3 linked regions of the Homo sapiens genome follow. The protein of the gene in region 2 interacts with the protein of the main gene of each other region in a pairwise test. Each region holds a gene or a part of one and is shown on either strand. Other genes may lie near its edges.

Region 1 (7,922 bases), on a different chromosome or scaffold from region 2:
GGTTTCACCATGTTTGCCAGGCTGGTCTCGAACTCCTAACCTCATGGTTTGCCCGCCTCGGCCTCCCAAAGTGCTGGGATTACAAGTGTGAGCCACTGCGCCCGGCCCCATTTTTCTGTTATTTTAGTTTGCTGGTTTTTCTATATACATGTCTTATTTCTTTAGGCAAAGATTTATATGGGTGGCATTAAAATGTCTGGTAAAAAATTTAAGGCAGTTGAAATTTTCATGAATGAAGTTATTTTACTATTTGATAAAATTCTATTCTTTCTGATTCATACCTGGTTAGGTTTATCTGCAAAGGGATCAGTGTGCCTTTTGGGACTAGGACACAGCCTGGCTTTTTCATGTCTTAAGGTTACTTACTCATGTTTCTGTATTTTTCTGACTTTGTTGGGTCTTCTACAATCAGCAGCAGCCCATGAGGACTAGGAGGCTAGGCCACTTTGTTGGATCATATTGTCATATAAGTTGAGTATCCCTAATTCAGAAATCTGAAATGTTCCAAAATATGAAACTCTTTGAGCTCCATAAAATTCAAAGGAAATGCTCATTGGAGCATTTCAGATTTTGGATTTTCAGGTTAGGGATGCTGAATATAATACAGATATTCCAAAATCCAGGAAAAAACAAAAATGAAAATCCAAAACATTTTTGGTCCCAAGCATTTCAGATAAGGAATACTCAGCCTGTAGTGCATTCAAACCCAAATGAGAAATGGGTCCCAAAACTGTTTAACTTACGATTTTTTAATTGAAAATGTAAAAACAATAAATCTGTCTTTGAACATTCTAGTAAGGAAAATACTGGATTTTAAGTATAACTGTTAACGCTGTAATGTTTGGAATTCTTAATTTTTTTACTCTTGATTCTTTTTTTTTTTTTTCTCCTAGGTTTCTCAGTTTGGGTGCAGATCATTTGCTTTGCTTTTTGATGATATAGACCATAATATGTGTGCAGCAGACAAAGAGGTATTCAGTTCTTTTGCTCATGCCCAAGTCTCCATCACAAATGAAATCTATCAGTACCTAGGAGAGCCAGAAACTTTCCTCTTCTGTCCCACAGGTATTGTATATAATGGCTTTACATTTAACTAGTCTTCTTGGAATATATAACTTATAAAGGACCATGGGCCCCATTCTCTCTCCACTTCCCTCCTCCTTTGGTGTGTAAAAGTAGGAATCTTTTTTTAGAAGACATTTTTCAAGATCCTAAATTGGAGAAATTTTAGGAACTAATAAATGACAACTGACTAGGCAAAAGATTTTTATGTATTTTTAAGTACTGGAAGTATATGAACATTACATTGTCAATATTAAAAGAGGGATAGTATTGAAATGAAAACTGGAGAAAAACCAAATTACATTGCTTTTACCTTAGTCACTTCTCATTTCCTCCTACTTGTCCCCTTTTTCTGCCCATGCATATCTGTCCCTTTTTGCACTCCTCCCACTCCCATCTGGGCTCTTATTTCAAGTAGTCAGCATAGAAAGCTTAACAGTTTTTCCCGTTTTCCTTTCTTTTTGCCCCTCTGGTTTCTTTCATTGAAAATATTTTAGTCTCTTAGTTGCTTCTCAAAATTCAACTTACAGGAAGTTTTCCCCACACTTCCTTGTTCAGGAAGAATTTTAGATTAAATTATTTAACTTTCTTTGTGTGTATTGTGAGCCGAGAACCTTATTTTAGTTGAGTACTACATTAGTACCCAGAAGTTTTAAGATTATACTGGGAATTAATTAGCTGCAAGTTACAGTTTAAGTTGCAGTTGAGTACTAATAGCCATTGGTATATGCCTTTAAAAAAATTTTTTTTAAATTTTACTTTTAAGTTTGTATTATTTATTTAGAGACCGGGCTATAAAACTGGCTAATTTTTATATTTTTGGTAGAGACGGGGTTTCGCCATATTGCCCAGGCTAGTGTCGAACTCTTGGGCTCAAGTGATCCACCCGCTTCAGCCTCCCAAAATGCTGGGATTGCAGGTGTGAGCCACTGTGCCCAGCTGCCATTGGCATATTCTTGTATTAGTTCTATTATGATATTATCAATTCATTCTGTTTGGCGTTTAATTGTAACTGAGAAAAGTAGGCAATTCAGAATTCTGTAGAAAATGCTGCAGTTCTTGTTTTTTTAGTAAACTTGTATTTCTAGTAACTGTAGTATCGTAAGAATTGATCTGTACTACTGTTGGAGGAAAAATACCAGATTTTATGAATTTCTTAAATGAACTGCCCACTTTAGTTCCTTGTAGGAGGCCTTTTATCATTTAGATGAAAATAATTTAGAATTGGCAGACATTTTTTCCACATTCAAAAACCCATGGGCCTTTTGGGAGGCCAAGGCGGGCGGATTGCCTGAGCTCAGGAGTTTGCGACCAACCTGGGCAGCATGGTGAAACCCCATCTCTACTAAAATACAAAAAAAAATTAGCCGGGCGTGGCGGCGTGCGCCTGTAGTCCCAGCTGCTTGGGAGGCTGAGGCAGGAGAATTGCTTGAGCCCAGGAGGCAGAGGTTGCAGTGAGCCGAGATCGTGCCACTGCACTCTAGCCTGGGCATCAAGAGTGAGACTCCGTCTCAAAGAAAACAAACAAACAAAGAGAAAACCCATGAGCATTTTAATTCTGACTTTTTTACTTTTCTCCCTACATTTAGAATACTGTGGCACTTTCTGTTATCCAAATGTGTCTCAGTCTCCATATTTAAGGACTGTGGGTGAAAAGCTTCTACCTGGAATTGAAGTGCTTTGGACAGGTAAGTCTTTTAAGATTTATACAGTCAAAGTTGAATTAAGTAGGACTTGCAGAAATTGCTTGTTCTTGTTAATTGAATACTTTTTTTTTTGAGACGGAGTCTCACTCTGTCGCCCAGGATGGAGTCCAGTGGCATGATCTCGGCTCACTGCACGCTCCGCCTCCCAGGTTCACACCATTCTCCTGCCTCAGCCTCCCGAGTAGCTGGGACTACAGGCACCCGCCACCACGCCTGGCTAATTTTTTGTATTTTTAGTAGAGACAGGGTTTCACCATGTTAGCCAGGATGGTCTCGATCTCCTGACCTCGTGATCCACCCGCCTTGGCCTCCCAAAGTGCTGGGATTACAGGCGTGAGCCACCACGCCTGGCCTTTTTTTTTTTTTTTTTTGAGACAGAGCATTGCTCTTGTTGCCCAGGCTGGAGTGCAGTGGCACAATCTCAGCTCCCTGCAAACTCTGCCTCCCGGGTTCAAGCAATTCTCCTGACTCAGCCTCCCAAGTAGCTGGGATTACAGGCACACGCCACCACACCCAGCTAATTTTTGTATTTCTAGTAGAGACGGGGTTTCTCCATGTTAGCCAGGCTGGTCTCAAACTCCCGACCTCAGGTGATCTGCCCACTTCGGCCTCCCAAAGTGCTGGGATTACACATGTGACCCACTGCACCTGGCCCAGAGAACTTGTTAAAATACGCTTTCTTTTACAAAGTTTACATATTCTCTTAATATGAAAAAACATCTATCATGGTTGGGGAGCCTGAGTGGGGAGCCTGAGGTGGAAGCCCCCAGGAGTTCAAGACCAGCTTAGACAACATAGAGAGACTGTAGAAAAAATAAAAAACTTAGCCAGGTGGGCTGGTGCACACCTGTAGTCCCAGCTACTTAGGGGGCTGAGGTGGAAGGATCACTTGAGCCCGGGAGGTAGAGGCTGCAGTGAGCTGTGATCATGCCACTGCACTCCAGCCTGAGCAACAGAATGAGACCCTGTCTCAAAAAAAATTCAGTTAATAAATAATAAAGATTTATAGGGAATTGGGCTAAAAGGTATTGATCCCATCCTTAAGCAGCGTTAGGAAACTCTTCTATTTTATAAAACGAAAAAAATAAAGCTCAGTAAAAGACATGTTGTGTTTTCAAAAGAAAAATTGTGGCTGGGTGCATTGGTTCGTGCCTGTAATCCCAGTGCTGTGGGAGGCTTGAGTTGAGGTAGGAGGATCGCTTGAGGCCAGGAGTTTAAGATTAGCCTGGGCAACATAGCAAGCCCTTATCTGTACAAAAAAATTTTAAATTACTGTGACATGGTGGGGCACACCTGTAGTCCCAGCTACTTGGGAGGCTGAGGTGAGAGGATTGCTTGAGCTCAGGAGCTCAAGGCTGCAGTGAGCCATGATTACTCCATTGCACTTCAGCCTGGGTAACAGAGGAGACCCTGTCTCAGAAAAAGAAACGTTGTTATAAAATGTACATGTAAGGGGCCAGGCGCAGTGGCTCACGCCTGTAATCCCAGCACTTTGGGAGGCCGAGGCAGGCGGATCACAGGGTGAGGAGATCGAGACCATCCTGGCTAACACAGTGAAACCCCATCTCTACTAAAAAATACAAAAAATTAGCCAGGCGTGGTGGAGGGCGCCTGTAGTCCCAGCTACTCAGGAGGCTGAAGCAGGAGAATGGTGTGAATCCAGGAGGCGGAGCTTACAGTGAGCCGAGATCACACCACTGTACTCCAGCCTGGGCGACACAGCGAGACTCTGTCTCAAAAAAAAAAAAAAAAAAGTACACGTAAGGAAAACAATAAAAAGTTATATATGCAGTATATTTTAAAGAACCATGATTCTTTTTTTTAAATATATTTTTTAATTTAAAATAAAAAGATAGGGTCTCGCTGTGTTGCCCAGGCTGGTCCGAACTCCTGGGCTCAAATGATCTGCCCACCTCTGCCTCCCAGAGTGCTGGGATTACAGTTATGAGCCAATGCGTCTAGCCAAGAACCATGATTCTTTTAACGAACGGTTGTCGTTATTTCTAGGTCCCAAAGTTGTTTCTAAAGAAATTCCAGTAGAGTCCATCGAAGAGGTTTCTAAGATTATTAAGAGAGCTCCAGTAATCTGGGATAACATTCATGCTAATGATTATGATCAGAAGAGACTGTTTCTGGGCCCGTACAAAGGAAGATCCACAGAACTCATCCCACGGTTAAAAGGAGTCCTCACTAATCCAAATTGTGAATTTGAAGCCAACTACGTTGCTATCCACACCCTTGCCACCTGGTACAAATCAAACATGAATGGAGTGAGAAAAGATGTAGTGATGAGTAAGTAGCCTGTACTTGATCTTTCACCTTGGGAGGAGAGCTGGGGTTAACTAGAGCCAGTGGAAAGTATGCATTCCTTTGTCATCACAACTTAAACAGTTTTATTTATTTTTTTAAAAACGTATTTTGTTTTACTAAGGAGGAAACAAAACCAAGTGGTTTTATTATGGTATGTTGTTTCATTCTGTTGATGAAGATGTATATGATAGAAGAAAGGTTGAGTGTCTTTGGACAAGTCACTTAACCTCTTTGCCTTAGTTTTTTTTTTTTTGTTTTTTTTTTTTTTAGTATGATTCAGAAGCAGCGTGGTGGCTCGCTTATAATCCCAGGAAATGCACTCCAGCCTGGACAACAGATGAAAATCCTATGAAATAAATAAAAATAAAATATGGTTCAGTCTTTGAAGTCTGAGTACTAGAGGAGACAGTCTTTTAAGTGTTTCCATTATCTCTAGAATCATTCGGATAAAATGTATTTTCAGGCAATTTTATTGAAAAGGATATTTTAGATAACTAGATACTCTTGAGTCACTTAGATCATTTAGATTCAGCTTACATTTATCTTTTATGGAACATACTCTTTTTTTTTTTTTTTGAGATGGAGTTTTGCTCCATCGCCCAGGCTGGAGTGCAGTGGCGCAATCTCAGCTCGCTGCAACCTCTGCTTCCCAGGTTCAAGCGATTCTCCAGCCTCAGCCTCCCGAGTAGCTGGGATTGCAGGCACACCCGGCTTTTTTTTTTTTTTTTTTTTTTTTTTAAAGTAGAGACAGGGTTTCACCATCTTGGCCAGACTGGTCTCGAACTCCTGACCTTAGGTGATCCACCTGCCTCGGCCTCCCAGAGTGCTGGGATTACAGGCATGAGCCACCCTGCCTGGCCGAATGGAATACAGTCTTATTTTAGACATTGGCTTACTAATTTTTAATTTATGAAAAATCTCTAATTAATAGAGTTCTAAGTAAGGTGCTTGATAATTATTTACATTTAAATAATCTGTCATGGGGCAGATGCATGTTCATGGGCACTGAGGGGGCAAAGAATAAAGTAGTTTTTTTTTTTTCTTTTTGAGATGGAGTCTTGCTCTTGTTGCCCAGGCTGGAGTGCAGTGGCGCAATCTCAGCTCCCTGCAACCTCCGCCTCCCAGGTTCAAGTGATTCTCCTGTCTCAGCCTCCCGAGTAGCTGGGATTACAGGCATGCGCCACCATGCCTGGCTAATTTTGTATTTTTAGTAGAGACGGGGTTTCTCCATGTCAGGCTGGTCTTGAACTCCTGACCTCAGGTGATCCGCCCTCCTGGGCTTCCCAAAGTGCTGGGATTACAGGCGTGAGCCATCGCGCCCAGCCATTCCTACTTTTGAGAAACAGTCTAGTGTTGGGTAAGGCTTATAGGCAATTGTACTATAGTGTGATAAGTGTTGTAATAGTTTAATTTATAAAGTGCTGTGTGAACACGGGAGAGAGTGATTATTTTTGCTAAGAGATTTCACAGACTTTTAAGCTGGATCAAAGTATGAGGAGAGTTTGCTGGGCGTTAAAGGTTTGTGGGCTGGAGGTTAAAAACACTGAACACTGAAAATTTTTTTTTTTCTTTGAGACAGAGCCTCGCTCTGTTGCCCAGGCTGGAGTGCAGTGGCGCGATCTTGGCTCATTGCAACCTCTGCCTCCCTGGTTCAAGCGAGTCTCTGGCCTCAGCCTCCTGAGTAGCTGGGATTACTGGCGCACACCACCCCATCTGGCTGATTTTTATAGTTTTAGTAGAGACAGGGTTTCACCATGTTGGTCAGGCTGGTCTCGAACTCCTGACCTGGTGATCTGCCTGCCTCTGCCTCCCAGAGTTCTGGGATTACAGGCGTGAGCCACTGTGCCCAGCCTGAACACTGAACTTTTGAAGTTCCCTGAATTTTGGCCCATTTTGGCTACTGAAGTGTCATGATAGTATGTAGTAATATTAATAGTTGTCATCTGTTTCTCAATTCCATACCTCTGCTTTGAATTGTTTATTGAATTAATGTCTCCCTTTTGTTTGGCTCAGTCATTGTCATCCTCCTCCCCTCAATAAAAAACAAATTGGGAATATAATTTAAATGCTGTCAGCGTACATGGCACTTAACTCCTACATCTTTTAAGGCACAGCAAGGAACATACTAAGGGTGGCAGACACTATCCAAACCTGGGACATACGTAGGAAATATTAAGGAAAGCTAAGAATAGAGAGTTTTTAAGTACAAAATCAAAAAATTCAGACTTAATTTTCTCTACCACTATCCTGGCTCAGAGCTTTGTTGCCTTATGTGTGCTAATTTGTGGGTCTCTGTCGATTATCTCTTTTTTTTTTTTTTTTCTGAGACGGAGTCTTGCTCTTGTTGCTCAGGCTGGAGTGCAATGGCCCGATCTCAGCTCACTGCAACCTTTGACACCTGGGTTCAAGCAGTTCTCCTGCCTCAGCCTCCCGAGTAGCTGGGATTACAGGTGCCTGCCACCACGTCTGGCTAATTTTTTGTATTTTTAGTAGAGATGGGGTTTTACCATGTTGGCCAGGCTAGTCTCAAACTGCAGACCTCAGGTGATTTGCCCGCCTCAGCCTCCCAAAGTGCTGAGATTACAGGCATGAGCCACCATGCCTGGCCTCTTCTTTTTCCCTCAGCGCCTTTATTAATGAAGTTACAGTCGGTTGTAGTGGCTCACGCTTGTAATCTCAGCACTTTGGGAGGCCCAGGTGGGCAGATCACAAGGTCGAGTTCGAGACCAGTCTGGCCAACATGGTGAAACCCCATCTTCACGAATAATAGAAAAATTAGCTGGGCATGGTGGCATGCGCCTGTAGTCCCAGCTACTGGGGAGGCTCAGGTGGGAGAATTGCTTG
Region 2 (7,922 bases):
CACTTTCCCTGCATTTAAAAAAGAAAAAAGACTCCATGATTTGTTGCTATTTAAATTTAAGACTGTCAGAATTATATCTCAGTAGAGCTATGATTTCACAAAAATTGGGGGGCATAACTGAGCTGAACAAAGACCTAAATGGTATTTACTTAGCGTTTCCCTGGCCCCACTGGACAGGCCCCCCTCCTCACCCCTCCAGTTTGCAGTCACTGCCCGCATCTAAGGGAAACTTTCATTTTGTCATTGTTTCGCTCTTAAGTATACACTCATTTTAATAGTTAAATATCAAACTTCATGTGTTTATTTGATATTTCAGATCATGAATTTTTGTTATTTAGAGTATATACTTGTGCTGTGCTAAACAAACAATAAATAGTATAAATATCAAAGTTATTAATTTGCTTTTTTAAAGAAATAATACAGCTTACCTTCTAAGCATTCAGGATTTTAACTGTTGGATACATGCTGCTTCTCTTTTGTAAACTTCAACGTCGTTCTGTTTCCTCATGAACAGGTGCTGCTTTCATGCTCCCATGTGTTCCACAAAGTAAGTCCACCCCTCACGCCTGCCCAGGTGCTGCACATGTCGCTCTCACAGTGCAGAGAAACCATAGTCATTTTCAAGGCTCCTAAGGAGAGCCATTTATTTTATTCATCACCACCATCTATAGTTAAAGAAACATGACTGTAGGCTGCAGTACAATTCATCCTATTTTGAAAATCATGAGTTTTGTGACAAAAGAACCACAAATGTTTATGTAACAGATTGTTGTCAGTAATGCATGTCAAAGTGACAGCTAAATTCACATGATCGATCTGCATGTGGCCCCATACACACGCGTGACTCACCTTTGTGCTAGTGGATTTCAGAAGTTTTTGATGTCTCTGCATGTATATTCTTGTAAGAAATCATTTTTGGAACAGGTTTTGTGAGGAAGGTGGTAGCACCTGATGAAGCCTCCTCACTTTATAACCTAAATTGGGCTAAGTCTCATAGTTATGGGAGAAAAGAACACTATAATTAGAACACTAACATTGGAAGTAAAAACGTTGTTTATAAGTAATTACTTGTAAAATTTTAAGTGAAATGTTTTTCTTCAGGCATGTCTTCAGGCTTTTGAAAAGTTCACAAATAAGAAAACCTGTCCTCTCTGTAGAAAGAACCAGTATCAAACCCGAGTGATACACGATGGGGCCCGCCTGTTCAGAATCAAGTGTGTGACCAGGTGAGGACGCCAGGCCCGTTTGGCGCTAAGCAGACACAGATCAGGCTATGACAACTAACTTGTTTTTTGAATAGTGGGATTTTATCTCTCTTCTTGGCCACCATAATTTCCCCAGGGCCTTGTACAGCACAGGGCTTATAACAACTACTGAAGTATTGGTTGACATAGAGTCATCATAAATTAGTCATTTTCAAATATCTGTGTTTTAGAATCCAAGCCTACTGGAGAGGATGTGTTGTTAGAAAGTGGTACAGAAACCTGAGGAAAACAGTACCTCCCACAGATGCCAAGTTAAGAAAAAAATTCTTTGAAAAAAAGGTAGGTAAAGATCATTATGTTCTCCAGATATGGTCTCCGTGCGGGTGGTTCACTTGGGGTCAGGAAGGCTAACAGAGGTGGTAAAACTTTGAGACTTACTTCACTTTGAGGGCTTTTTAAAAATGGGTGAGATGCTGCTAAAAATCCTGTTTAACTTTAGTTGGCTTTCCAACCTAGATGTTCAAATACTTCTAGACTTTCTTTTCTAGTTAAATCATAAAATTAGGTTAAATCAAAGCAACTTCTGTTTGGCCATTTTGTGCTAATTGTTTAAATAAACTTATCTCTTCAGACACAAGACTGGAAACCAGCTTAATTTTTCCCATCTCCTGGGCTATATGTAAATGAAGACATCTGCTGCACATCTCATAGTAATGAAAATAGAAGCTGCCTATAAAAATAAAGCCCCCACATGCTACCATTGTATTGAGTACCTCGTGGGGTCATCACAATGAGCTTTAGAGCTAACTTCCATGTCTACCCTTCCTCTTAACCACTATTTATGCTTTAGTTTTACTTTTGGGGGACTTATTTAACAATTTCCCATTCCTTGTCCCCATATGAAAAGGACAGTCCTACCCCATCAGCCTGTGGCTTCAGGCAAACAGCAGCAGCTCCGAGGCTGTCATATGAAAGCCATCACTTCTTCCTGGCAGTGTTGGCCTGAGAAGAGCTGTAGCATTTATAATGGCCCAGCACACAGTAGGTGCTGGAAATTCTGTATTTATTATCACTATTAACTCCTTTCCTAGAATATGGAGATGAGTTACTGTGTGTTCTGTTCCTGAGAGCAGTGTCTCTGATCTTCAGAGATCATTCGTCTCGGGTGTTCATTCTCAATTTGGTAAAGGACCGCCATGCACGATTGCGTCATCCTTCCTTTACATTCTTTCCAGTTTTTTATCTTCAGTCGTTGACAGTCAGTTGTGTTCTCTGGGCTACTCTTAGTAATTTCTAATATGTCATAGTAGGTTGTCTCTTAAATCAGAAGTGATTTTTTGTCACCTCTTATACAATTTTAATTACAGATTTGATAGTCATTTTACCTTATATATATAAATATTTTTCATGTGCACACATCATTTTATAAGAACTCTTGAAGATAAAGGCCCACTGAAAGTGTTGGTGGTCTCAGCCCATTGAACTGGACGAGAACTGGCCCAGGTTGCTGGAAACAAGTGAAGCAACCATTACAATGTGCCTTGTGTTATCTTGTAAAGTAGCCAGTGAAGGTTAAGTTTCAGCGTTCAGTGCTCAGGTGTTCAAATGCTGCAGCCTTCAGCTTCATGGAAAAAGGAAACGAAAAATAACAAAAAGCAAGTGACCAAGAGCAGTCGGGGCAGGGAGACCTGATCAAACAAGTTCCTCAGTTTCTAATTCAGTGTCTCCCACAGAGAGATGGAACTTTACAAGGCAGATTCATAGCTCTGTCCCACTGGACGTTGGGTCCGCTGCCCTGTGGCCATCCCACCTCCCCACAAATACTGTTTTTTGTTTTATCCTTGGTTCATCCCAACTGCTGCCTCCTCGTCCTGAGCCCTCATCGCTCGGAACGCCCCGCTCTGATCCCCGTGTCTGCTTTTCTGAGCACACTCTTGCCCGCCCCCGCATGTCCTGCCCGTTCCTACTGGTTCCCTCTGCCTTGCTTAAAATGTGCCAGTTTTTCAAAGCCTAGCTGAAGCTTTCTTCCAATTTCTTTGGTCTTCTCTAAACCTCTATTGTATGTTTAAACAACACCATCTAAGAGATCAAGAAGAACAGAAGTATGAATGCTATTCTAGCTTGTATATTACAAATGTGGTTTTTCCTTTGGGGCTTTTAAGATGATCTCAGATGATTTCAATAGCAAATTCACTTAAGCTGAATATCTGTGAAGAAACTGATAAGTAAAACTGATTTTTTATTTTTTGCAGGGGTGGTAGTTGAGAACAAACTGTATAAGTTGTTTTTTATTTTTATTTAGAGACAGGGTTTCGTTATATTGCCCAGGCTGGCCTCAAATTCCTGGGCTGAAGCGAACCTCCCACCTCAGCCTCCCAGTTAGCTGGGATTATAGGCAAGAGCCATAGGCTAGGGCAGTGGCTTTCAGACTTTTCCTCAACCACAATAAGAAATATCTTCTAAGCAATGTTGACAGAAAAACCAAACTCTGTAAAGTATTTTAAAGAAGTTGACTCTGACTGATACGAGTGACTGCAGGCCAGGAAACCCACTCTCAAGGAGTCCTGAGAAAGTGCACCCCGGGCGGTTGGATTACGGTTTGGTTTCATACATTTTAGGGAGGCAGGAGTTACAGGCAAAGACATCAGTCAGTACATGGAAGTTATACATTGGTTTGGCCAGAAAGGCGTGATATCTTGAAGTGGGGGTTTACAGATTGTAGGTGGATTCAGAGATTCTTTATTTGCAGTTGGTTAAAGGAGTAGGGCTCTATCTAAATACTGGAGTCAGCAGAAGGGAATCTCTAAGTTGAGGATGCTGCGCAGCAAGACTGATGGCCTGCGGCATGACTGTCCCTTGCCGGGCATGGCCTTAGGTCTTGTTTGTACTTTGGTTTCTTACTGCCTCAGACTGCCGTCAGCCTTATCACTTTTAAAGGAATACTGGTCACTTCAGCTTAAACTCCAGCAAGGAGTGGGCATAAGGGGCATCTCACCTTTCTTCCCATCGTGGCCAGAAATTCCATTGTTAAGGTTTTCCTAGGGCCCCCTTGGCCAAGAGGGGGTTCGTTCTGTTGCTGGGGGCCTTAGGATTTTTTTTTTTTTTTGAGACGGAGTCTCGCTCAGCTGCCCAGGCTGGAGTGCAGTGGCACGATCTTGGCTCACTGCAACCATCGTTTCCCGAGTTCAAGCAATTCTCCTATCTCAACCTCTTGAGTAGCTGGGATTACAGGCACCCGCCATCATGCCCAGCTAATTTTTGTATTTTTTAGTAGACACAGGGATTCCCCATGTTGGCCAGGCAGGTCCTGAACTCCCAGCTTCAGGTGATCTGCCTGCCTTGGCCTCCCAAAGTGCTGGGATTACAGGTGAGAGCCACCATGGCCTGGCCAGGATTTTATTTTTAGCTTACAGCAATGACCCACCACATGTATACAGTTAACAGAAACGTAACTTTCGCAAAGCAAAATCTGCTTTCACTGCAGGCACCACACTGTGTTCATTTTTATTCCACTTCGTTTCCAAAGTGCTGGGCCTACTACATTAATGTTATGGGTCACTGATGGGTTGTAGATATCAGCAGTCTGCATTATCAATAACTGCCACCTTAAACATAATACAAGTGACCGTGTTATCTGCTGAACTGTAATCTTACCTCATTCAAGTTTCAAGTGTGGGGGTGGGGAGGAACAGATGTATACATATACGCACACACACTCAGATCATAGTGAGGTTATACTCATAATTTGTTACATGAATAGGGATCCTATCATGTAACTCTTGCTCACTTAACTCATTTGGCCATAAACACTTGAAATCTGTAAACTCAGATCTCATGTTAAATAAATGAAGATTGAACTTACTGTAAAATAGTGTATTAGCAGTAGGTAGTAGGTGCCTATATGGGTCCATGCCCTATGTGCTTGTATGCCTGTATGGGTAGAACTCAACAGCTGTCCTTTATAATAAAGACCACTTCTTAATCATTTACCAAATGACCTCACCATTTGATGCTTTTTTTCTACCTTTCCAACTTAATAAACTCATTCTGTGAGCGATGGGAATCCTCTGAGAAATGTTAATCTACAATTTTAGAATGCCCTGCATATTTAATGGAATCCAAAAGGTTACTGAACTAGGTTATTGAATTTCACATTACCCAGGTGTGATGGTTAATTTATGTGTCAACTTGACTGGGCTAAGGGATGCTCAGGTTATCTGGTTAAACATTATTGCTGGGTGTGCCTGTGGGTATTTCCAGATGAGCTGAGCATTTGAATCAGTGGACTCAGTAAAGTGAATTGCGTGTGTACACAGGCACAGTCTCACTCTCTTGCGTGTGCTTTCTCTCTGTCTCTGCCTGACTGCTTGACCTGGGACGTTGGTTTTCTGTAGATACACAGAAAGGGAGGTGTACCCATATAAATAGAAATCATTTTAAAATTACAAAATTGTTGTATACAACTTTATGCAATAGAAGTGAAAATATAATTGAAATTACTTCCTGTAAAAATAGCAAACGTGGAAAGAAATTTAAAGTATGAAATGACTGAAAAAAATTATATGAGCATCTCCGTTTTTACTGAAAAGATATTAAATAAAATTTAACAGCCATTCTTTTTTTTTTTTTTTTTTGAGGCACAGTCTCGCTCTGTCACCCAGGCTGGAGTGCAGTGGCGCGATCTCGGCACACTGCAACCTCCGCCTCCCAGGTTCAGGCCATTCTCCTGCCTCAGCCTCCCAAGTAGCTGGGACTACAGGCGCCCACCACCATGCCCGGCTAATTGTAGAGATGAGGTTTCACCATGTTAGCCAGGATGGTCTCGATCTCCTGATCTCGTGATCCACCAGCCTCGGCCTCCCAAAGTGCTGGGATTACAGGCGTGAGCCACTGCACCCGGCCTTAACAGCCATTCTTAATAATGAAAGACACTAGAACTAGAATGAAATTTCCTTGTCACATTAAAAACTATGTGTCAAATACTAAAAACACATTGTTTTAGAGAGTAAAAAACCATAAAGAAAACTAGGTTACTTACTGTCATCACACTTGAGCCAATCCTTGCCAATAACACATGAAAACAAAATATATGTGTGTGCACATATGTGTATATGTTATGCATATTATATAAATCCACACATGTATATTACAATTTTACATTATATTTATATTAAAATAAGCCAAACAAGGAATGTACCACACTGATAAGAAAAAATTTTTTCTGATGGAATAAAAGGCTTGAATAAAATGACAGACATTTTACACTGGAATGAGTAAAAATGTCCACTTACTTTATATAAATTTAATGTAGTTTCTAACTCCCAAAGGAGTAGGATTGGCTGTGCATTTAGGACTTTACAGGTTAACTCTAAAGTTTATCTAAAGAGGTATGAAGAGCTAATAATTTTTTTAAAAGACAGATTGATGAGATAGAACAGCCTTGTTAGATATCAAAATATATAAATTTGGCAACTAAGATTCTTGGGGAATAATAGACAAACAATGAAACAGTAGAAAGTCACACATCTCAGCATACAGGAAATTTTAGTGTACTAAAGAAGGTATTTCAGACCAGTGGAGAAAAAAATTATTTGAGAAAAATCAATTGGGAAATTGAGTTCATTCATCTGAAGGGGGTTAAAGAACACTGCTTTATGCGTTACTGCCAAGAACATTCCACACGGATTACACTCTCAAATACATTTTAATGGATACATGAAATTAATGGAGTCAAATAGCTTCCTGGGTGCCTGCTCTCTGCCTGTGCTTTGTTAGTCAGGGGAGATAACGAGGGAACAGACAAAACACCACAATCCTAGCAGAACGTGTGCAGCTCAGAGCGGGGAGAGAGCCTGGATCTCAGATTCTGCTCCAGTGCACACGGCACATTGCGTGATTGCCACCGTGGCTTTTACAACGTTCTGAAGGCTATAGAAAAACATTGCAAGGGCCGGGCGCGGTGGCTCACGCCTGTAATCCCAGCACTTTGGGAGGCTGAGGCGGGGGCATCACGTGAGGTCGGGAGTTCGAGACCAGCCTGACCAACATGGAGAAACCCCTTCTCTACTAAAAATACAATATTAGCCGGGCGTGGTGGCGCACGCCTGTAATCCCAGCTACTCAGGAGGCTGAGGCAGGAGAATAGCTTGCACCCGGGAGGCAGAGGTTGCAGTGAGCCAAGATCGTGCCATTGCACTCCAGCCTGGGCGACAAGAGTCAAACTCCATCCAAAAAAAAAAGAAAGAAAAAGAAAAACACTGCAAGAGCACACTAGGTGGTAATTTGTCCTGGTTGACAAGGCAAAATGATCATCTTGATTTACATGTTTGGTACAAGTGGAGAATTTCCTTGTATATATTATATATTAATGTTTAGGGGTTGCATCTATTTTATTGTTCTTTTTTAAAGATGTAATCAATGAGTAGAATATTTTACAGCTCAAAACTGGAAGAGCTTAATAATAAATGTGAGACAAATAATACACGGACCCTATCTTAGTAAAGAAAGTCATCATCATCCTCAGATGCCTTTAGAAAAGACTCTTTTCATCTAGCATAATAGTATACTATTAACAAGTTTATCTAGTTTAATCTGGGCATAACATGTGAAAATGTCATTTTTCCAATGATAGAAACAGAATTGTATTGTTTTCACCAAGAAACAAACATATGTTTCAGTAAAAAAGAGAAAATTGAACTGCTTTCCTTTAAGTACCTA
Region 3 (7,922 bases), on a different chromosome or scaffold from region 2:
CGCGGACGACTCCTTCACTCCCGCCTTCGTCAGTACTGTGGGCATCGATTTCAAGGTCAAGACCGTCTACCGCCATGACAAGAGGATCAAGCTGCAGATCTGGGTAGGCTGGGAGGCTGGCTGTGGGTTGGGGGTGGGGTCCCTCCAGGAAAGTTCATTGGAGGGTTCTTTTTTTTTTTTTGAGACGGAGTCTCACTCTGTTGCCCAGGCTGGAGGGCAGTGGCGGGATCTCGGCTCACTGCAACCTCCATCTCCTGGGTTCAAGCGATTCTCCTGCCTCGACCTTTTTTTTTTTTTTTTCTCTCGAGACAGAGTCTTGCTCTGTCGCCCAGGCTGGAGCACAATGGCACAATGTTGGCTCACTGCAACCTCCGTCTCCTGGGTTCAAGCAATTCTTCTGCCTCAGTCTCCCGAGTAGCTGGGATTACAGGTGCACGCCACCACACCCGGCTAATTTTTTATACTTTTAATAGAGATGGGGTTTCACCATGTTGGCCAGGCTGGTCTCGAACTCCTGACCTCGTGATCCGCCCACCTCGGCCTCCCAAAGCGCTGGGATTACAGGCATGAGCCACTGTAATACTGTGCCTGGCGGGAAACAGTATTATTCCTGGGGGTCTGATTGCGGAGATGATACTAACCTAAGACATGTTTGAAGTACTTGTGACACTAGCGTGGTGGCTTATGCCTGTAATCCCAACACTTTGGGAGGCTGAGGTGGAGCATCACTTGAGCCCAGCGGTTCCAGACCAGCCTGGACAACATAGCGAGATCTCATCTCTAAAAAAAACTTTAAACATTAGCCCAGCATGGTAGCTCCCGCCTGTAGTCTCAGCTATTCAGGAGGCTGAGGCAAGAGGATTGCTTGAGCCCAGGAGTTCGAGGCTGCAGTGAGCTATGATTGCACCGCTGCATTCCATCATGGGTGACAGGGCAAGACCCCATCTATTAAAAAAAGAAAGAAAGAAAAAAGAAAGGTCCCAGGTGCTGGTGACCAACAGGGAAGAGTTTTGGGTACCATCTTAGAGGGGACCCTGGGACCCCCATTGGACCGACCTGGTCTGCAGAGTCACACCTAGCTCCCTCTCCCAACTTAGCCGCTGGTAACAATCATCGTGGTAGCAAGAGTACCAAGGTGTCCTGTCAGGATGGTACCATCTGGCCCAGTTGGTTCTTAGAGACAAGGTCAAAGGGGCTCATAAGTCTGTGAGAGGCCACTGACCCCTGAGACTTGGAACCCCTCAAGGGCAAGCCCAAGTCTCTCCCTCATCAGACTGGGGAGATCCCTTGGTAATGAATCCATGCCTCCCCCATCAGACTGGGGTTGTGAGGGCAGGATCTGTGTATTCTCCATCAGACCAGAGGTTGTACAAGCAAGTCTGTGTCTCCCCCGTAAGGCTGGGGCTATGAGTACAGGGCAGTGCCCCTCTAAGACAGGGGTGGACTGGGAAACAGGTAGTTCCCAGCCAACTGCCACTGCCATTTGTCCAGGACACAGCGGGCCAGGAGCGCTACCGCACCATCACCACGGCCTACTACCGGGGAGCCATGGGCTTCCTGCTCATGTATGACATCGCCAATCAGGAATCCTTTGCCGCTGTGCAGGACTGGTGAGTGCTTGCTGATCATGGACCCCTGATCTTTGCCCTCTCCTCTGACCCCTAACCCCCCCGGCTCATGGCTCACCACTGGTAACTCTGCAGGGCCACGCAAATCAAGACCTACTCCTGGGACAACGCCCAGGTCATCCTGGTGGGGAACAAGTGTGACCTGGAGGACGAACGTGTTGTGCCTGCTGAGGATGGCCGGAGGCTCGCCGACGACCTTGGTTAGTGCCCAGCCTGGGCCACAGGCCCTGGTCTCCCAGAACCAAACCCTCATCCCCATCCTCTGATTCAGGGTCCAACCCAGTCACTGATCCTTTGAGGATCTGCCCAGGAAGATACCCATGTGTATGCCACATGTCCCGTCTAATTGCAGGGGATCCACGCGCAGGAACTCCCACTGCCCCACTGCCTATCCCCTGGGAACCCAGCAAAACCATTTCTGGAAATTGATCCTAGAGATATCCTCACCCATGTGGGATATGGTGTGTGGAGTGTAGTAGTAGTATTAGTAGGAGTGAAACCTACAGATCCCCCCCAGGTGTCTCACAGTTGGAGAACCAAGTGGACATAAAGTATATTCACATGGTGGAATACTATGCAGCCATGGAAAAGGATGGGGATGTTCTTTATTTTTTTATTTTTTATTTTTTTGAGACGGAGTCTCGCTCTGTCGCCCAGGCTGAAGTGCAGTGGCGCGATCTCGGCTCACTGCAAGCTCCGCTTCCCAGGTTTATTTTATTTTTTTGAGTTGGAGTCTCACTCTGTCACCCAGACTGGAGTGCAGTGGTGCCGTATTGGCTCACTGCAGCCTCCACCTCCCAGGTTCAAGCAATTCTCCTGCTTCAGCCTCCCAAGTAGCTGGTACTACTGGCGCGTGCCACATGCCCAGCTAATTTTTTATATTTTTAGTAAAGATGGGGTTTCACCATGTTAGCCAGGATGGTCTCCATCTCCTGACCTCGTGATCTGCCCGCCTTGGCCTCCCAAAGTGCTGGGATTACAAGCGTGAGGCACCATGCCTGGCCTTTTTTTTTAATTTTGCGTGGAGATAGGGTCTCGCTATGTTTCCCAGGCTGGCCTCGAACTCCTGACCTTAAGTGATCCTCCCTCCTCAGCCTCCCAAAGTGCTAGGATTGCAGGCATGAGCCACCACACCAGCCCAAGGGGATGTTCTTTATGGTTTGTTTTTGTTTTTGTTTGAGATGGAGTCTCCCTCTGTTGCCCAGGCTAGAGTGCAGTGGTGCGATCTTGGCTCACTGCAACCTCTACCTCCTGCATTCAAGTGATTCTCCTTCCTCAGCCTCCTGAGTATCCAGGATTACAGGTGTGCGCAGCATGCCTGACTCATTTTTGTATTTTCAGTAGAGATGGGGTTTTGCCATGTTGGCCAGGCTGGTCTTGAACCCCTGACAGGTGATCCACCTGCCTCAGCCTCCCGAAGTGTTGGGATTACAGGCGTGAGCCACCGTGCCTGGCTGTTTTGTTCTAGCAAAATAGTGGATACGACTGCTTTCTTTAGTCCAGGAGTCAGCAAACCTTTTCTTAAAGGGCCAGATAGTAAATATTTTTGGCCATACAGTCTCTATGGCAACTACCCAACTCTGCATGACAGCAGCCACAGACAATGCATAAATGAATGGGTGTGACTGTTTGCCAATAAAACTTTATTTGTGGCCGGGCGTGGTGGCTCATGCCTGAAATCCCAGCACTTTGGGAGGCTGAGACAGGCAGATCACCTGAGGCCAGGAGTTCTAGACCAGCCTGGCCAACATGGCAAAACCCCGTCTCTACTAAAAATGCACAAAAATTAGCCGGGCATGGTGACAGACGCCTGTAATCCCAGCTACTTGGGAGGCTGAGGCAGAAGAATCACTTGAACCTGAGAGGTGGAGGCTGCAGTGAGCCGATATCACGCCACTGCACTCCAGCCTGGGCAATGGGGGGAGACTCTGTCTCAAAAGAAAAAAAAAAAAAGGAAAGAAAGAAACTGATGCTTGCAATCAGTTTTTAACCCCAGCTTTCCCATAAGCCCCATCCAAGCCAGCACCCTATGTGCAAAATTCAGAAGGCACAGGAAGAGACTAAGGCAATAACCCACTCCCCACCTGCAGTTCTGGTCTCCCAGCTTCTCTGATTCTTGTATCTCTTTCCAGAAATATGCTGAGCACCCACAGGCATTGACAACACATTGGCTACTTTTTTGTTTTACACAGATGTTCCCTACTGTATATACCCTTTCCTGCACTTTGAACTTTTCTACTAAATAATATATCCTAGAAATATTTCTCTGCCGGGCGCAGTGGCTCACGCTTGTAATCCCAGCACTTTGGGAGGCCGAAGAGGGCGGATCATGAGGTCAGGAGATCAAGAACATCCTGGCTAACACTGTGAAACTCCATCTCTACTAAAAATACAAAAAAATTAGCCAGGCGTGGTGGTGGGCGCCGGTAGTCCCAGCTTCTCGGGAGGCTGAGGCAAGAGAATGGTGTGAACCCGGGAGGCGGAACTTGCAGTGAGCCAAGATCACGCCACTACACTCCAGCCTGGGTAGAAGAGCAGGACTCTTTCTCAAAAAAAAAAAAAAAAAGAAATATTTCTCCATCAGCCCCAGAGCTGGCTCATTCTTTTGCATGGCTGTGTACTATTCCATTTCGTGTTTCCTTAACCTTTTCCTCTGTTGACAGCCATGGAGATTATTTCTAGCCTTTTCCTCTGACAAATGCAGCTGCAGCAGTCATTTTTACATATATTTCTTTGGACACATGAGGCAAGAAATCTGCCAGCTTGATTCACAGATGTTCTTAACACTTTTTTTTTTTGAGATGGAGTCACTGCACCTGGTTGGTTTTTATAGTCCCGGCCTACACTTTTTTAAAAAAATAACTTTGGCCAGGAATGGTGGCATGTGCTTGTAATCCCAGCTACTCTGGAGACTGAATTAGGAGGATTGCTTCAGGCCAAGAATTTGAGACCAGCTTGGGCAATATAGCGAGACCCTGTCTCAAAAAAGGAAGAAAATAATAACTTTTTGTGATAAAAATGTTCAAATACTCTCAGCACATTGGGAGGGCAAGGTGGGTAGATCGCTGAAGCCCAGGACTTTGAGACCAGCCTGGTCAACATGGTAAACCCTGTCTCTACAAAAAAATGCAAAAATTAGCTAAGCATGGTGGCTCACACCTATAGTCTCAGCTACTCAGGAGGCTGAGGTGGGAGGATCGCTTGAGCCTGGGAGGCAGAGGTTGCATTGAGCCAAGATTGCACCACTGTATGCCAGCCTGGGTGACAGAGTGAGACCTTGTCTCAAAAAACAATGAAATAAAATGAGAAATGTTCGGCCAGGCGTGGTGGCTCACGCCTGTAATCCCAGCACTTTGGGAGGCCGAGGCAGGCGGATCACCTGAGGTCAGGAGTTTGAGACCAACCTGACCAACATGGTGAAACCTCATCTCTACTAAAAATACAAAATTAGCCGGTCGTGGTGGCGCATGCCTGTAATTCCGGCTACTCAGGAGGCTGAGGGAGGAGAATCACTTGAACCCAGGAGGCGGAGGTTGTGTGAGCTGAGATCGCACCATTGCACTCCGGCCTGGGTAAGAAGAGTGAAACTCCATCTAAGAAAAGTTCAAATACATTCACAAGTAGAAAGGAATGTATAATAGACTTTGATAAAACATTATTCAGCTTAATTAGGTCTCAACATTTTTTCAATCTTGAATCATCTATTCCCCCAAAATACTTTTCCTTTTTTTCCTAGAGCATTGAGAGCAAACCCTTGACATCGAAACCTTTTGTCTGTAAACACTTCACTATGCAACTCCAGCTGTTTTGTTGTCGTCGTCGTTTTTTAAATAATAGAGACAGAGCCTCACTCTTTCACCCAGGCTGGAGTACAGTGGTGTGATCCCACCACTTTAGGAGGCTGAGGAGGGAGGATTGCTTGAGCCCAGGGGTTAGAGACCAGCCTGGGCAACATAGTGAGACCCCAACTCTACAAAATAAGTTTAAAGCTCCCTGTAGCCTCAGACACCTGGGCTCAAGTGATTCTGCTGCCTCAGCCTTTCAAGTAGCTGGGACTACTAGTATAAGCCAGCACACTGGCTAATTTTTTATTTTTATTTTTTGTAGAGATGAGGTCTCACTATATTGCCCAGGCTGGTCTTGAACTCCTGGGCTCAAGCAGTCGGCCTGCCTCAGCCTCCCAAAGTGCTGGGATTACAGGCATGAGCCACGGCACCTGGTTGGTTTTTACATTTTTAAGTGGTTGAAAAAAAATAATATGACATGGGAAATTTATATGAAATTCAAATTTGTATCTATAAATGAAGTTTTTCTGAGACACAGCTATACCCTTTTAAAAGAATTTTTTTTTTACACGGAGTCTTGCTCTTGTCGCCCAGGCTGGAGTGCAATGGCGTGATTTCGGCTCATTGCCACCTCCGCCTCCCCAGTTCAAGTGATTCTCTTGCCTCAGCCTCCTGAGTAGCTGGGATTACAGGCACCCACCACCACGGGGCCTGGCTAATTTTTGTATCTTTAGTAGAGATGGGGTTTCACTATGTTAGCCAGGCTGGTCTGGAATTCCTGACCTCAGGTGATCCACCCGCCTCAACCTCCCAACCATTTATTTTTTAAATTTTTTTTTTTTTTTTGAGGCAAGGTCTCTCTCTGGTGCTCAGGCTGGAGTGCAGTGGCACGATCATAACTCAAAGCAGCCTCCAACTCCTGGGCTCAAGTGATCCTCCCACCTCAGCCTCCCAAGTAGCTGGGATGCCAGGTGTACTCCACCACACCTGCCTAATTAAAAAAAAATTTTTTTGCCGGGCGCAGTGGCTCATGCCTGTAATCCCAGCACTTTGGGAGGCCGAGGCGGGTGGATCACAAGGTCAGAAGCTTGAGACCACCCTGGCCAACATGGTGAAACCCCGTCTCTACTAAAAATACAAAAAAATTAGCCGGGTGTGGTGGTACACACCTGTAATCCCAGCTACTCAGGAGGCTGAGGCAGGAGAATTGCTTGAACCTGGGAGGCAGAGGTTGCAGTGAGCCGAGATCGTGCCACTGCACTCCAGCCTGGGCAAGAGAGCGAGACTCCGTCTCAAAAAAGAAAAAAATTTTAAGAGATAGGTCTTGCCATGTTGTCTGGGCTGATCTTGAACTCCTGGGCTTAAGCAGTCCTCCCACCTTGGCCTCCCAAAGTGCTGGGATCACAGGAGTGAACTCACACCCGTGCTCAGTTGATGCCTATTTGTTGATGCATTGTCTATGGTTGCTATTTTTATGGTAATCACACGTCTGTGATTACAGGCTGTCTCAATACAGAAAAGGGTATAAACAGTGCTTCAAGCGTGAAATTGAGTAATTGAGACAGAGACCATATGACCCAGAAAGCCTAAAATATTTACGATCTGGCCTTTTACAGAGGAGGTTTGCTGACCTCTAAGCCATAACCAGTCCCTTTCCCCTTTTATTCTTGCCATTGCTTTGTTGGAGAAACTGGATCTCTGTTCTGTGGGGCAGGGCCCTGGATCCCCAGTTAGCCTGGAAGTGGTGAAATCAGTTAACGCCCGCGATGGGCTGGAATACTTGGAGGTGCTTTCCACACCTACTTGCGGATTATATCTGGGGTCTCGGGGTAAAGGGGGATTCTCACTTTCTGTTATTATGTTTAAAATATTGGAGTACAGGCCAGGTTCGGTGGCTCACGCCTGTAATCCTAGCACTTTGGGAGGCTGAAGTGGGCAGATCACTTGATGTCAGGAGTTCGAGACCAGCCTGGCCAACATGGTAAAACCCTGTCTCTACCAAAAATACAAAAATTAGCTGGGTGTGGTGGCACGTGCCTGTAATCCCAGCTACTTGGAAAGCTGAGGTATGAGAACCATTTGAACCCGGGAGGCGGAGGTTGCAATGAGCCAAGATCGCGCCATTGCGTTCCAGCCTGGGTGATGGAGTGAGCCTGTATCTCACACACACACAAAAAGAAGATTGGCATACAAAGCAGGACACAGAATTTGATCCCAATTTTTTTTTCTTTTCTTTTGTTTTATTTTTTTTTTTGAGATGGAGTTTCGCTCTTGTTGCCCAGGCTGGAGTGCAGTGGCACAATCTTGGCTCGCTGCAACCTCCGCCTCCCAGGTTCAAGCAATTCTCCTGCCTCAGCCTCCCGAACAGCTGGGATTACAGGCATGTGCCACCACGCCTGGCTACTTTTGTATTTTTAGTAGAGATGGGGTTTCACCATGTTGGTCAGGCTGGTATCAAACTCCTGACCTCAGGTGATCCGCTGCCTCGGCCTCCCAAACTGCTGGGATT

The links.
Region 1: the proteins of RNF32 (region 2) and OGA interact in a two-hybrid assay, tested with the Homo sapiens proteins (one study listed by BioGRID and IntAct).
Region 3: the proteins of RNF32 (region 2) and RAB3D interact in a two-hybrid assay, tested with the Homo sapiens proteins (one study listed by BioGRID).

The regions. Positions count from the first base shown.
Region 1 is NC_000010.11:101,800,873-101,808,794, reverse strand, and holds part of OGA (protein O-GlcNAcase), read left to right. Parts: intron 1-893; coding exon 894-1,065; intron 1,066-2,651; coding exon 2,652-2,750; intron 2,751-4,775; coding exon 4,776-5,060; intron 5,061-7,922.
Region 2 is NC_000007.14:156,657,027-156,664,948, forward strand, and holds part of RNF32 (RING finger protein 32), read left to right. Parts: exon of another isoform or gene 1-8; intron 9-428; exon of another isoform or gene 429-514; coding exon 515-547; exon of another isoform or gene 548-665; intron 666-849; exon of another isoform or gene 850-1,101; coding exon 1,102-1,226; exon of another isoform or gene 1,227-1,435; coding exon 1,436-1,544; exon of another isoform or gene 1,545-1,836; coding exon of another isoform or gene 1,837-1,860; exon of another isoform or gene 1,861-3,324; intron 3,325-7,922. UniProt on the Homo sapiens protein: May play a role in sperm formation.
Region 3 is NC_000019.10:11,329,353-11,337,274, reverse strand, and holds part of RAB3D (ras-related protein Rab-3D), read left to right. Parts: coding exon 1-103; intron 104-1,491; coding exon 1,492-1,610; intron 1,611-1,703; coding exon 1,704-1,828; intron 1,829-7,922. UniProt on the Homo sapiens protein: The small GTPases Rab are key regulators of intracellular membrane trafficking, from the formation of transport vesicles to their fusion with membranes.